Linked DNA regions of Homo sapiens: all the other regions are linked to region 4. The links come from fine-mapping of genetic effects on gene expression. A gene starts in region 4. Each other region holds a variant in brackets. All regions are shown on one strand. Distances are from middle to middle.

Region 1 (2,685 bases), 66 kb after region 4:
CTGGGATTACAGGAGTGAGCCACCACGCCCAGCCAGTTTAATTTCTAAATTGAAAAACTATAAAACGGAGCTTAAGACCAACAGAAATTTTCTCCAAACAAGAATATATCTATTCTATTTCATTTAAAAAAAAGAAAGAAGGCCAAGAGCGGTGGCTCATGCCTGTAATCCCAACACTTTGGGAGGCCAAGGCAGGAGAAATGCTTGAGCCCAGGAGTTCAACACCAGCCTGGGCAACATGGTAGTACCCTGTCACCACAAATAATAGAAAAATTAGCCAGGCATGGTGGCACGCACCTGTCCCAGCTGCTTGGGAATCTGAGGTGGGAGGATCGCTTGAGCCTGGGAAGTCAAAGCTGCAGTGAGCAGATAGCACTACTGCACTCCAGCCTGGGGGGCAGAGTGAGACCCTGTCAAAAGAAAGAAAATAAGGAAGGAAGGGAAAGGGGAAGGGGAAAAGGAAGGGGAAGGGGAAGAGAAAGGGGAAGGGAAGGGAAGAGAAGGGGAAAGCCAAGGGGAAGGGAAGGGGAAGGGAAAGGGAAAGGAAGGGAAGGGGAAAGGGAAGGGGAAGGGGAATGGAAGGGGAAGGGAAGGGGAAGGGAAGGGGGAGGGAAGGGGAAGGGAATGGGAAGGGAAGGGAAAAAGGAAGGGAAGGGGAAAAGGAAGGGAAGGGGAAGGGAAGGGGAAAGGGAAAGGAAGGGGGAGGGAAAGGAAAGGGGAAAGGAAGGGGAATGGAAGGGAAGGGGAAGGGAAGGGGAAGGGAAGGGAAAGGAAGGGGAAGGGAAGGGGAAGGGGAGGAGACGGGGAAGGGGAAGGGAAAAGGAAGGAGAAGAGGAGGGGAAGGGGAGGGGAAAGGAAGGGTAAGGGGAGGGGAAGGGGAGGGGAAGGGGAGGGGAAGGGGAGGGGAAGGGAAGGGGAAGGGGAGGGGAAGGGAAGGGGAAAGGAAGGAAGGGGAAGGGAAGGGGAAGGGAAGGGGAAGATGAAGGGGAAGGGAAAAGGAAGAAGAGGAGGGGAAAGGGAGGGGAAGGGAAGGGGAAGGGGAAAGGAAGGGAGGGGGAGGGGAAGGGAAGGGGAAGGGAAGGGGAAGGAAAGGGAAGGGGAAGGGAAGGAGAAGGGAAGGGAAGGGGAAGGGAAGGGGAAAAGGGGAAGAAAAGGAAAGAAACAACAAAAACCACCATCCCCAAAGATGCTATGAGCTGAAAAAATATCCAGAAAGGGCACCAGGCTTAGACAAATAGGCTTACATGAAAGTCTGAGTTCTTAAGTATTTTACAATTCATAGAGAAACAACAAGAAATTTATAGAGAAACAAGAATTTTACAATTCATAGAGAAACAACAGAAGGACTGCTCAAGTATTAGAAATTGGCCTTAACTGTATATACATTGTAAATCTCTAGGAAAAGATGTGGTGTTGGGAAGAGTTAAACCAGACTGAAAGAGATGGACTGATAACAGTAGAGGACAGAACTAGTAATAGTTAAGAAGAATTTTAGGAAAAATGATAAAGCAGGAACATAGCAAGACCTCATCTCTACAAAAAATTAAAAACTAGCCAGGTGTGGTGGCATGCGCCTGTGGTCCCAGCTAACCAGGAGGCTGAAGTAGGAGGATCACTTGAGCTCAGTGAGCTGTGATCATGCCACCACACTCCAGCCTGGGTGACAGAATGAGACTGTCT[C/CA]AAAAAAAAAAAAAATAGCCCGGGCGCGGTGGCTCACGCCTGTAATCCCAGCATTTTGGGAGGCTGAGGTGGGCGGATCATGAGGTCAGGAGATCGAGACCATCCTGGCTAACATGGTGAAACCCCGTCTCTACTAAAAATACAAAAAAAATTAGCCGGGCGTGGTGGCAGGTGCCTGTAGTCCCAGCTACTCGGGAGGCTGAGGCAGGAGAATGGCATGAACCTGGGAGGCAGAGCTTGCAGTGAGCTGAGATCGCGCCACTGCACTCCAGCCTGGTGACAGAGTGAGACTCCATCTCAAAAAAATAAATAAATAAAAATAAAAAATAACAGATGCTGATGAGGATGTGAAGAAAAGGGAACTCTTATACACTGTTGGTGGGAATGCAAATTAGTATAGCCATTATGGAAAGCAGTATGAAGACTTCTCAAAAAACTAAAAATAGAACTACCATATAATACATCAATCCCACTACTGGGTATGTATTCAAAGGGAAGAAAATCAGTTTTCAAAGGAATATCTGCATCCCCATGTTTATTGCAGCACTATTCACAATAGCAAAGATATGTAATCAACGTAAGTGTCCATCAATGGATGAATGATAAAGAAAATGTGGCGTATATACACAATGGAATACTATTCCGCCATAAAAAAAGAATGAAATCCTGTCAAATTGCAGCAACATGGATGGAACCGGAGGCTATTAAGTGAAATTAACCAGGCACAGAAAGACAGATATCACATGTTCTCACTCATATGTAGGACCTAAAAAGTGGATCTCAGGTTGGCTGCGGTGGCTCACACCTGTAATCCCAGCACTTTGGGAGGCCGAGGCGGGCGGTCAGGAGTTAGAGACCACCCTGGCCAATATGGTGAAAACCTGTCTCTACCAAAAATACAAAAATTAGTCCAGTGTAGTGGTGCGTGCCTGTAATCCCAGCTACTCGAGAGGCTGAGGCAGGAGAATCGCTTGAACCCAGGAGACGGAGGCTGCAGTGAGCTGA
Region 2 (2,685 bases), 44 kb after region 4:
GCTTGGTTTTGATTCATGGACATACAGAAATATTTAGACACAAAAAACTCAAACCCCCATCTTGTCTCAATTAGACAGCCCAGCCTGGAAGACAGAAGCAACGAGGAAAGAAAAGAGAGTTTAGATAATTCATTCAAGGATAAGTAAGAAGAATATACTGAAATCTAATTTTCCAGAAAAGAATTTATCCATAAGGATTAGGCTTTTGATCTCTGCCTATTGCTGATGTCTCAAATAGTAATTATGCTCATATCCCAGTGATAAAACAATCATGTCAAACCAGACTCACTTCAGCTGCCACATGAGCCTTATATAACAAGACCAGGTTTCAGCCCGTTTTCTACAGTAACAACTATAACCACTTGTTAATGATTTAACAATGACAATGTGCTGCCAAAACATTATTTCAATTGAGCCTCATAATAAATTAATAAATCTGTGAAGTAGATGTAACTTTTATCCTCATTTTCAGAGGAGAAAACTTGAATTCATAGAGAATGGGTGGTTTTCCTGGGTCAGAGGAATGATAACTCCCATCAGGACTAACCACAAATCTCACGGTCTTTCCATTGACCCACTTGGCTCCTTCAGAGGAAGGCACAGCAGGCTTTTACCAGAAGAGCCTGGGACAATCAGCAGTCCCAGCATTAAATAGTCCTCTTTGTCCTAAATAGCCCCCAAAATATGCTGTATGATATGACTTCCAGGATCCTTAGGCACGAGCTGTTGATCTAGAAAGCTTCACTAATTAGGGCTGGCCTACACAGAAAAGGAACCTAACTATTCCATAAGCATACTCCCAGCACTGTTGAACTTGGTTTCACAAATTCATTTACACTTGTTTTTAATTTGCTTCGCAAGTATTCTTAAGGTATTTTCCCCCATGTGTCCTGTCTGTCCAAGAACACAGGGACCATGTGGGTCTGTGTTCACAGCTCTACCCTTAGCACCCAAGACAATGCTGAGTAAATGGTTCAATAACCATCTGGTGAATGAACTCAAGGGCAAGGACCTGGCCTTGTAATTTTTATGTCACTTCTGACTACAAATGTACTATCCTGGGAATTCAAACAAATGCTACTGACTAGATGCAGAAAGGAATTACATTTAGTAAGAACAGAGAGTAAGTACAATTAGTACCTTTTTTCCCCTCTTTCTTCCCTTCAGACCACTTCAATCTTGTTGGTGTCATCGTGACAGCTGGAGAGCCAGAAAATAACTGTAATAAGAAAATTGTACAGTGGTTTCAATGTTCTAATGCCATTCCTATAGACAGACTTTACTAACAAATGAATTATTTGTTCAATTTCAATGTGAAGAGTTTTTCTGAGACTGATGTATTTATATCTCATTAATCTTAACTGATTTACTGCTGGCTTAATGAAGTAGGCATGCCTAGGATATCTTGAACCACCACCCCACAGGTAATATAGAGCCTAGGAGGCCTGGCTCAAATGTCACCTGTGGAATCTTCCAGTAAGAACTAATTGCTTCCTCCAGCACTTGTTTAAGGAGCTACTGTACTGTACTACTCATCTGCTTGTGACTAGTGATATCATTCTTGAATTCAAAATGTGTTTGTTTGTTGAATGAGTCAATGAAAACCAACAGAAAGAAGGTAGCATAAATGAAAGGATTGAGAAAAAGCCATTTGAATGGCCCAAAGAAACACAGTAAAACAGATGACAGT[A/G]TATCAATTTTCCTCTTTTCTACAAATATATACAGACAGACAGACAGTCCAAAGAACAGTGTCTTACTAAGTTCCTATTTTCTTTGCTGGTTCCCTTCAATTCACCAATGGCCACAGATTCTGGAGTAGGGTTCTTCTTTTTCTTTTCTGACATCATCTGATTTCCCAGGACCTTCCGCTGATTTAAGAACAGAAAACATTTGATTTATAAACACCTACTGCATCTACAGTGGAGCTATACTAGCCTTCAAAACTGTAATGTCCTTGGGTTAAAAAAATCTCAGCATTCTGATAATCCTGTATGGACCCTCTCAGGCCATCTTATACAAGAGAGGCCAAAGCATGTTACCAAAAAAACCCAAAATCATTACTTTTGTTTAAGTGATCACTTTTCCTCCACATTTAAAAGGGCTGAAAGGTTAGAAGCAACTTTATAGTTGATTTAAACAAGCTAATATAGGTCAATTACAGTGTGCCTCTGAGACCAGTTACTCACAATATAGAAACACCAGTTACTCATCATATAATTTTTTTCCCCAAAGATGTGCTGTCTCTGGCAACTATTTAAAAAGTCCCTCCCCCCTACTTACCACTGAGGGATACTTAGGCTGGCTCTTCTCTAAGGCACTTCTTCCTCCCTGTCATTTACTCACACAGGACTGGAACATTTGGAGACATTCTATAAGAGTTCCTAATATAGCCACAAGAAGGTAGAGGCCTTCTTAAGGGGGTCACATGACTGTACTGACATTCAGAGCAAGACTAAAAGCCCTTTCATCTCTGAACAGCTTAGAAGATGATGTAGTTTAGGTAACCGCCAACAGTGACAATTCTACCATCTTTGGAGAAATTTTTTTTTCCCTTAGAGAATAAATTTGAATTCTAAAAAAAGAACATATCAAAACTAGAACATTAAACCCTGCATTATAAATATGAGCAGCAATATTCAGAACATTCTGATTTAATAAATAATTTACATGAGAGGAGTTCTGGAG
Region 3 (2,685 bases), 36 kb after region 4:
CAGAGTAAAGACAACTGTAGAGTGTTTATTTCTATTCAGGATTTAAACAACATCTTTGTCATCAAAGTAGCTATGTCAGCATCAATAACCTGCTGATTATAAAATTTACCCTTGGCAGAGAGAAAGAGAATTAACCTTTAATGAATAATTGCCATCTGCCAGCACTGTGTAAAGCTAGTGATTCTCAGTATTTTAATCGTCAAGGATTCCTCTGAGATTCTCGTAGAAGCTATGAAATCTCTCCCCTAGAAAAATGCAAATGTACATAAAATTTTACATAGAATTACAGGGGCAAACTATTGTCCTGAAGCATAACCACAGACCTTAGATTAAAATCCTCCATGCGAAGTCCTTGTTATTGAGATGTATACCGTTCTCCCCACCTTACAGATGAGGGGACAGGAGATTCAGGGACTTACCCAAAGTCACATACCTAATAAATTGCAGCCATAGGCTGGGCACAGTGGCTCACGCCTGTAATCCCAGCACTTTGGGAGGCTGAGGCGGGCATATCACTTGAGTACAGGAGTTCAAGACCAGCCTGGCCAAGATGGTGAAACCCCGTCTCTACAAAAAATACAAAAATTAGCTGGGTGTGGTGGCACACAGCTGTAGCCCTAGCCACTTGGGAGGCTGAGGTGGGAGGATCACCGGAGACTGGGAGGTGGAGGCTGCAGTGAGCCAAGATCGCACCACTACACTCTAGCCTGGGTGACAGAGTAAGATGCTGTCTCGAAAAAAAAAAAAAAATAGCTGCTATAGACTAAATGTTTGTATTCCCACAAATTAACTTTGAAACCTAATCTCCAATGTGATGATATTAGGAGGTAGGGTCTTTGGTAGGAGGGGTCTTTGGGAGTGTCTTTGGCAGGGCCCCCATGAATAGGATTAGTGCTCCTCTAAAAGAGGCCCCAGAGAGATCCCTTGTCCCTTCCACCATGTGAGGTTACAGTGAAGACGGCTGTCTGTGAACCAGGGAGTGCACCCTCAGCAGACACCCAATCTGCTGGCACCATGCTCTTGGACTCCCCAGACTGCAGAACTGTAAGAAGCACATTTTTGATGTTGAGAAGCCACCTAGTCTATGGTGTTCTGTTAAAGCAGCCCAAGCCCACCAAGACAGCAGCAGGAACATTTCAACATGAGCTGTCTAAACACACCTTCCTGCCTCAGATGAAAACTTCATCTAGGTTTTCCTGTTATTGTAACCATCACTCCTTGTTTTTAAATGAAGAAATAAAAATTATGTGAGAAACTGAAATCTATGTGAAGCATTCTAGACTCAGCCATGGGAAATTAGGAAGCTCAGGATCCCAGAGGCTCCAAATCATACTTCTTATCAGCCAAAAGCCCCGCTCCTCCTGAACCCACCCACCCACCTAAAAACAAGCCAAAGAGGAGCCTTTCTAGAGGCTTCACTTTCCTCAGAACAAGAGAAAAACTCTCTCTTCAACATCAACAGTCAAAATGTGAA[T/C]AGACCAGTCAAATCCTCTGGATATGAAACAAAACAATTTTAATTTCAGAATATTACAAGAATATAAAAGAAAGACAATGCATAGGATCGTTTCTTTACAATTACATATACATAGTCAAATAAGAATGAAAACTTTAACCAAAACACTTAAGAAACCTTGTTTCTCTTGTTGAGCAAGCTCAGGGATAGGACAAAGGCAACCCTTGCTCTGCAGAAAGAACCCTGGGGTGAGGGAATATTTCCCCCAACAGGTTCTATCTGTCCCCAGACATGGCCAGGGGAGGGCTCCATGGCTCTTTAGCACAGGCTGTGGCCTCACACACTCCAGTCTCCATGGTAACCCAAGCACTCAGGCTATTATGTCCCACACCTCCTCGCTGGCCTGCTTCTGTCAACTCTACGCTGGTAGAAGATCTCGGCATTAGCTGTCTGGGGAAGCTAACTTCCTACAGTGGGTTTTAGTTGAGTTAATCACCACTGGTGTAAAACGCTTGTGCATCTTAGGAACCCAAATCTTCCCCAAATTCTAGACAATCCCACAAAATGCTAGTATCTAGGTTTAGATCTAGGTCCTGTCTTCCGTTTGAAGCCTTCAGGGTAAAGGAGGGCAGAGATAAGGCTCTCTCCTGGGGAAAGGAGTTCTACACAAAAATGACCTCAGAATGGGGGCCATTAGCCTCAAGCATCTGTGTGAGGCCTTGTAGGAAAGGAGACAGAGTCTAGAGACATCTATTCCTAAAAATCACCTGGTTGCATGGCCAGTCACTGTGGGGCACGTTCCCAGTGACCACAGGTTCTCCTAGACGGCAGTATTTTCAACTGCATGCTAACACAGGCTGCTGTGAGGGAAACTGAACAGAAACGTTCCTACTCAGGAGGAGAGAATGGCTCTGTTCTGACACTCTAGGATCGACTGCTTCCTTACAGGTCAACAGAACAGATACCTCCGGAGCACCCAGGTGTCACTGCAGTCAACAGCCCTCCACTAGCCCATTTCCCAAGGGTGTTCCCTTGTCCTTCCTGAATGACTCTGGAAGGACATTCTGGGTAAAGAGCTTTCCTTTGCGGAGGATCAACTGTAGTTTTGGTTACGATTCATTACCTGCTCCTTTTTTTACGGTTCGTTACCTGCTCCTGTTTTGGCCCTCAGGTACAGTCAGTATCTCCTGATGCTCTTTCACTACTACAGCAGGGTTTTTCACACCAGATTC
Region 4 (2,685 bases):
AGCCCTGTTCAAAAATCTCCTGGTGTAGTCACCTCTGCGAGCAGTACAAAGGCCCTGCATGTGACCAAAATCTACACACACACAGCCCATTACGGGGACTCTCATGGCCTCACGCTATTAAGGTGGCCCCTTAATACTAGGAATTCACACAGAAACACATTCTGCAGGAGAGTCACAGAAAACAAAGTATAAAGGTCTGTAAATACACACACTCAAACACACCCAAACACACACACACACATTCTACTAGCTTACTGGGTCTAGAAAAGAAAAGGATCAAGTTTCCTCAAGAATTCACAAGTGAGACAGAACAGGGGAAGAGAAATGCTATTTTTTTATTACTTGTCATGGTCAATATCTTTAACCTTGGGCCCCCCTCTCCAAGCTCCTGACTTCTTGGCATTATCCACCGGGTTCTCCATCCAAGACACACCTGCCCCTTTTCGGGTGCTGAATGTTACATACCCCAAGCCCCATACCCAAAGCCCTCAGGTCCCATTGTCTGCCTGTGTTGGGGATGGCTGGGTGTGGAGGGAGGCGGGTGAGTAGGGGACCAACGCGTGGCACCTGCAGGGGAAGAATTCTCAAGGCTCTGGGGCAAACAATGGAGAAGAAGGGGCAGACCAGAAACTTCGCCTCCATCCCACCCTGCTGCCCTTCGTCAGGAGCAAGCTCTGGGAGCGGGAATCTGCGCAGCTGGCTCAGAACGCGGCCGTAGCCCCATGTGCCCAAAAGGAGACATTGTGCTTGGCGAGTGTGGGAAGTGTCCCTCCTGGGTGCAAGGAAGGCTTTCTGACACCAGTTCGCAGGCACCCTGGAGGAATAAAGCGCTGGCGCAGTGAGGAGGGCCTGAGGGTGCGGAGTGCAGGGTGCAGGGTGCAGGTGTGAGGACGGAAGCTGACAACCCCGCCGAGGGCCCTTTGAATCCCAGGGATGGGGAAACCACGGCGCTCCTGGCTCCTGGCTCGGGAAAGACCCCGGCAGGCACTGACCCGTCTGTGGGCTGCGGAGCCCGGACGGGCCCCAATGGTCCTGCCCCCACCCCCAAGTCCGGAATTGCGTCTGGGTGGGAGGGCAACCTCGGAGCCAGGGAGCCAGGGGCGGGGACCATACTCACAGGCGCTCGGTGTTCCGAGGTATATTCTTGGGAATGGCCTGCAGCCCCGTGCCGTGGCAGTCCACCGTGGTTCCGGTGCAGGTGCAGAGGGCGGGGCACGCCGAGGCACCCAGGCGCCACGCGGCTGCCCACAGCAGCAGCCAGAGCTCCGGCCGGACCGGCCCCGCCGAGGACCCCCACCCGGGAGTCAGCGCCATGGTGCCCTCACAGCGTCCCGCTCGCGAGCCAGACGGCAGCAGCCGCTGACCATCCCCGTCCGGGGCCGCCTCCAGGTGCAGTCCCGGGGCAGAGCCACCGAAGAGCCCGCGGGCTTGCGCGCGGCGCCCCTGCGGGCTGGGAGGCACCTTGCTCCTCCAAGCGACGGCGCCTGTGCGCGGACGGAGGGAGGGCGCCTTGGGCGGAGGGGGCTCGGCTCCTCTGCCGTTTCGCCGCCTGCGTCTCCCTCTCCCTCCCTCCAGCTCCCAACTGACTGCTGCGAGGAGGAAAATGGGCAGGCCCCGCGCGCGCACGCACCCTGCGCACACACCACACACACACACACGATCACACACACACCCGCGCGCTCGCTCCCACCCGGCAGTCATCCATCAATCGAAAAGCACACATCCAGGGCCAGGCTCCTCCCCGCCCTCCCCCGCCGCAGCCCCCCTCTCCCGACGACCACTCAGCGGCTGCAAGCCGCCTACAGTTTCAAAGGTGGAACCTCCGAGGCGCCGTCAGCGGGCACGGGGCTGCGGGGGATGGGAGAAGAGGGAAGGGGGTGTGACTCGACCCGCCAAGTCCTGGCTGTACACACACACACACACACACACACACACACACACACACACACACGGCGAGGATGCGCACATTTAGACGCACGCACCCCGGCACCCGCGGCCCCAGCTGCTAGTCCAGGGTGGGAGGGAGATCTTATTTTGCCGCTTGGACGCCTTCCCGGGGAGTCAGACCCGTTTCCCCCCATCCCCCGACGGCAGCAGCGGCCTCTCGGCCCCACCCGACTCGCTGTGTCAATTCTTGGTTAAGGGAAACCCTGTGCCTGTGCCCCAGGTAGCATCCTCAAGCCACCAACCTTACTTAGCCTGGACTTTGAGGATGGAGCTTTGTCGGGGGGGAGGGTCCACGAAAGCGCTAGGCGGAGTACAGTCTCCTTCCTACCTCAATGCACCCACTTCTCAGAGGGGAACAAGCTAGCCGCATGCCCAGGATGAGAATGGCTCTGATTGGAACACTTGCTCAGCAGGGCGTATTTGTACCATACAGTTACACGGGCTTCTTCCCCCGTTGTAGAAGAGAGGGACAGACATTAAGGGGACTTGGAAATCTGGCAAACGTCTTCCTCCACTCACACCAGCGTTCCTCCATTTCTGACAGGTGGAAACAGATGAAAATGAATATTCCATCTTGACATCAAAGGAGACAGAGAGGGCTGGCATAGCGCTGGGCGGCCTGCTTGGGAGAGAACCCCACAGGCCAGCCCCGTCAGACCCAGGCCTCACACCCGGCTGGGTAGGGACCTTCGTCACCGTAAGGCATGTGTGGACGTGGGTGTGAACGGGACATCCAGG

The links.
Region 1: its variant is fine-mapped to the expression of SLIT1 in neutrophils (BLUEPRINT, PIP 0.95).
Region 2: its variant is fine-mapped to the expression of SLIT1 in gastroesophageal junction (GTEx, PIP 0.99).
Region 3: its variant is fine-mapped to the expression of SLIT1 in whole blood (TOPMed, PIP 0.94).

What each region holds. Positions count from the first base shown.
Region 1 is chr10:97,250,644-97,253,328 of GRCh38, forward strand. All of the region lies in intron 6 of ARHGAP19 (Rho GTPase activating protein 19), which reads right to left. All of the region lies in intron 6 of ARHGAP19-SLIT1 (ARHGAP19-SLIT1 readthrough (NMD candidate)), which reads right to left. Among named protein-coding and RNA genes, the nearest start is that of ARHGAP19, 41 kb to the right of the region's middle. The variant C/CA (reference allele first, on the strand shown) is at 1,681.
Region 2 is chr10:97,228,007-97,230,691 of GRCh38, forward strand. ARHGAP19 (Rho GTPase activating protein 19) reads right to left here. Exons shown (of 12, transcript NM_032900.6): 10 at 1,758-1,868; 11 at 1,141-1,219. ARHGAP19-SLIT1 (ARHGAP19-SLIT1 readthrough (NMD candidate)) reads right to left here. Exons shown (of 15, transcript NR_037909.1): 10 at 1,758-1,868; 11 at 1,141-1,219. All of the region lies in intron 2 of LOC105378447 (a long non-coding RNA gene), which reads left to right. Among named protein-coding and RNA genes, the nearest start is that of SLIT1, 43 kb to the left of the region's middle. The variant A/G (reference allele first, on the strand shown) is at 1,691.
Region 3 is chr10:97,220,683-97,223,367 of GRCh38, forward strand. It overlaps ARHGAP19 (Rho GTPase activating protein 19), which reads right to left. Exons shown (of 12, transcript NM_032900.6): 12 at 1,497-2,685. All of the region lies in intron 11 of ARHGAP19-SLIT1 (ARHGAP19-SLIT1 readthrough (NMD candidate)), which reads right to left. The region is part of intron 2 of LOC105378447 (a long non-coding RNA gene); the gene reads left to right. Among named protein-coding and RNA genes, the nearest start is that of SLIT1, 36 kb to the left of the region's middle. The variant T/C (reference allele first, on the strand shown) is at 1,475.
Region 4 is chr10:97,184,361-97,187,045 of GRCh38, forward strand. It overlaps SLIT1 (slit guidance ligand 1), which reads right to left and starts at 1,599. Exons shown (of 37, transcript NM_003061.3): 1 at 1,118-1,599. The coding sequence starts at 1,314. All of the region lies in intron 11 of ARHGAP19-SLIT1 (ARHGAP19-SLIT1 readthrough (NMD candidate)), which reads right to left. RefSeq lists enhancers at 1,443-1,943, 1,944-2,444.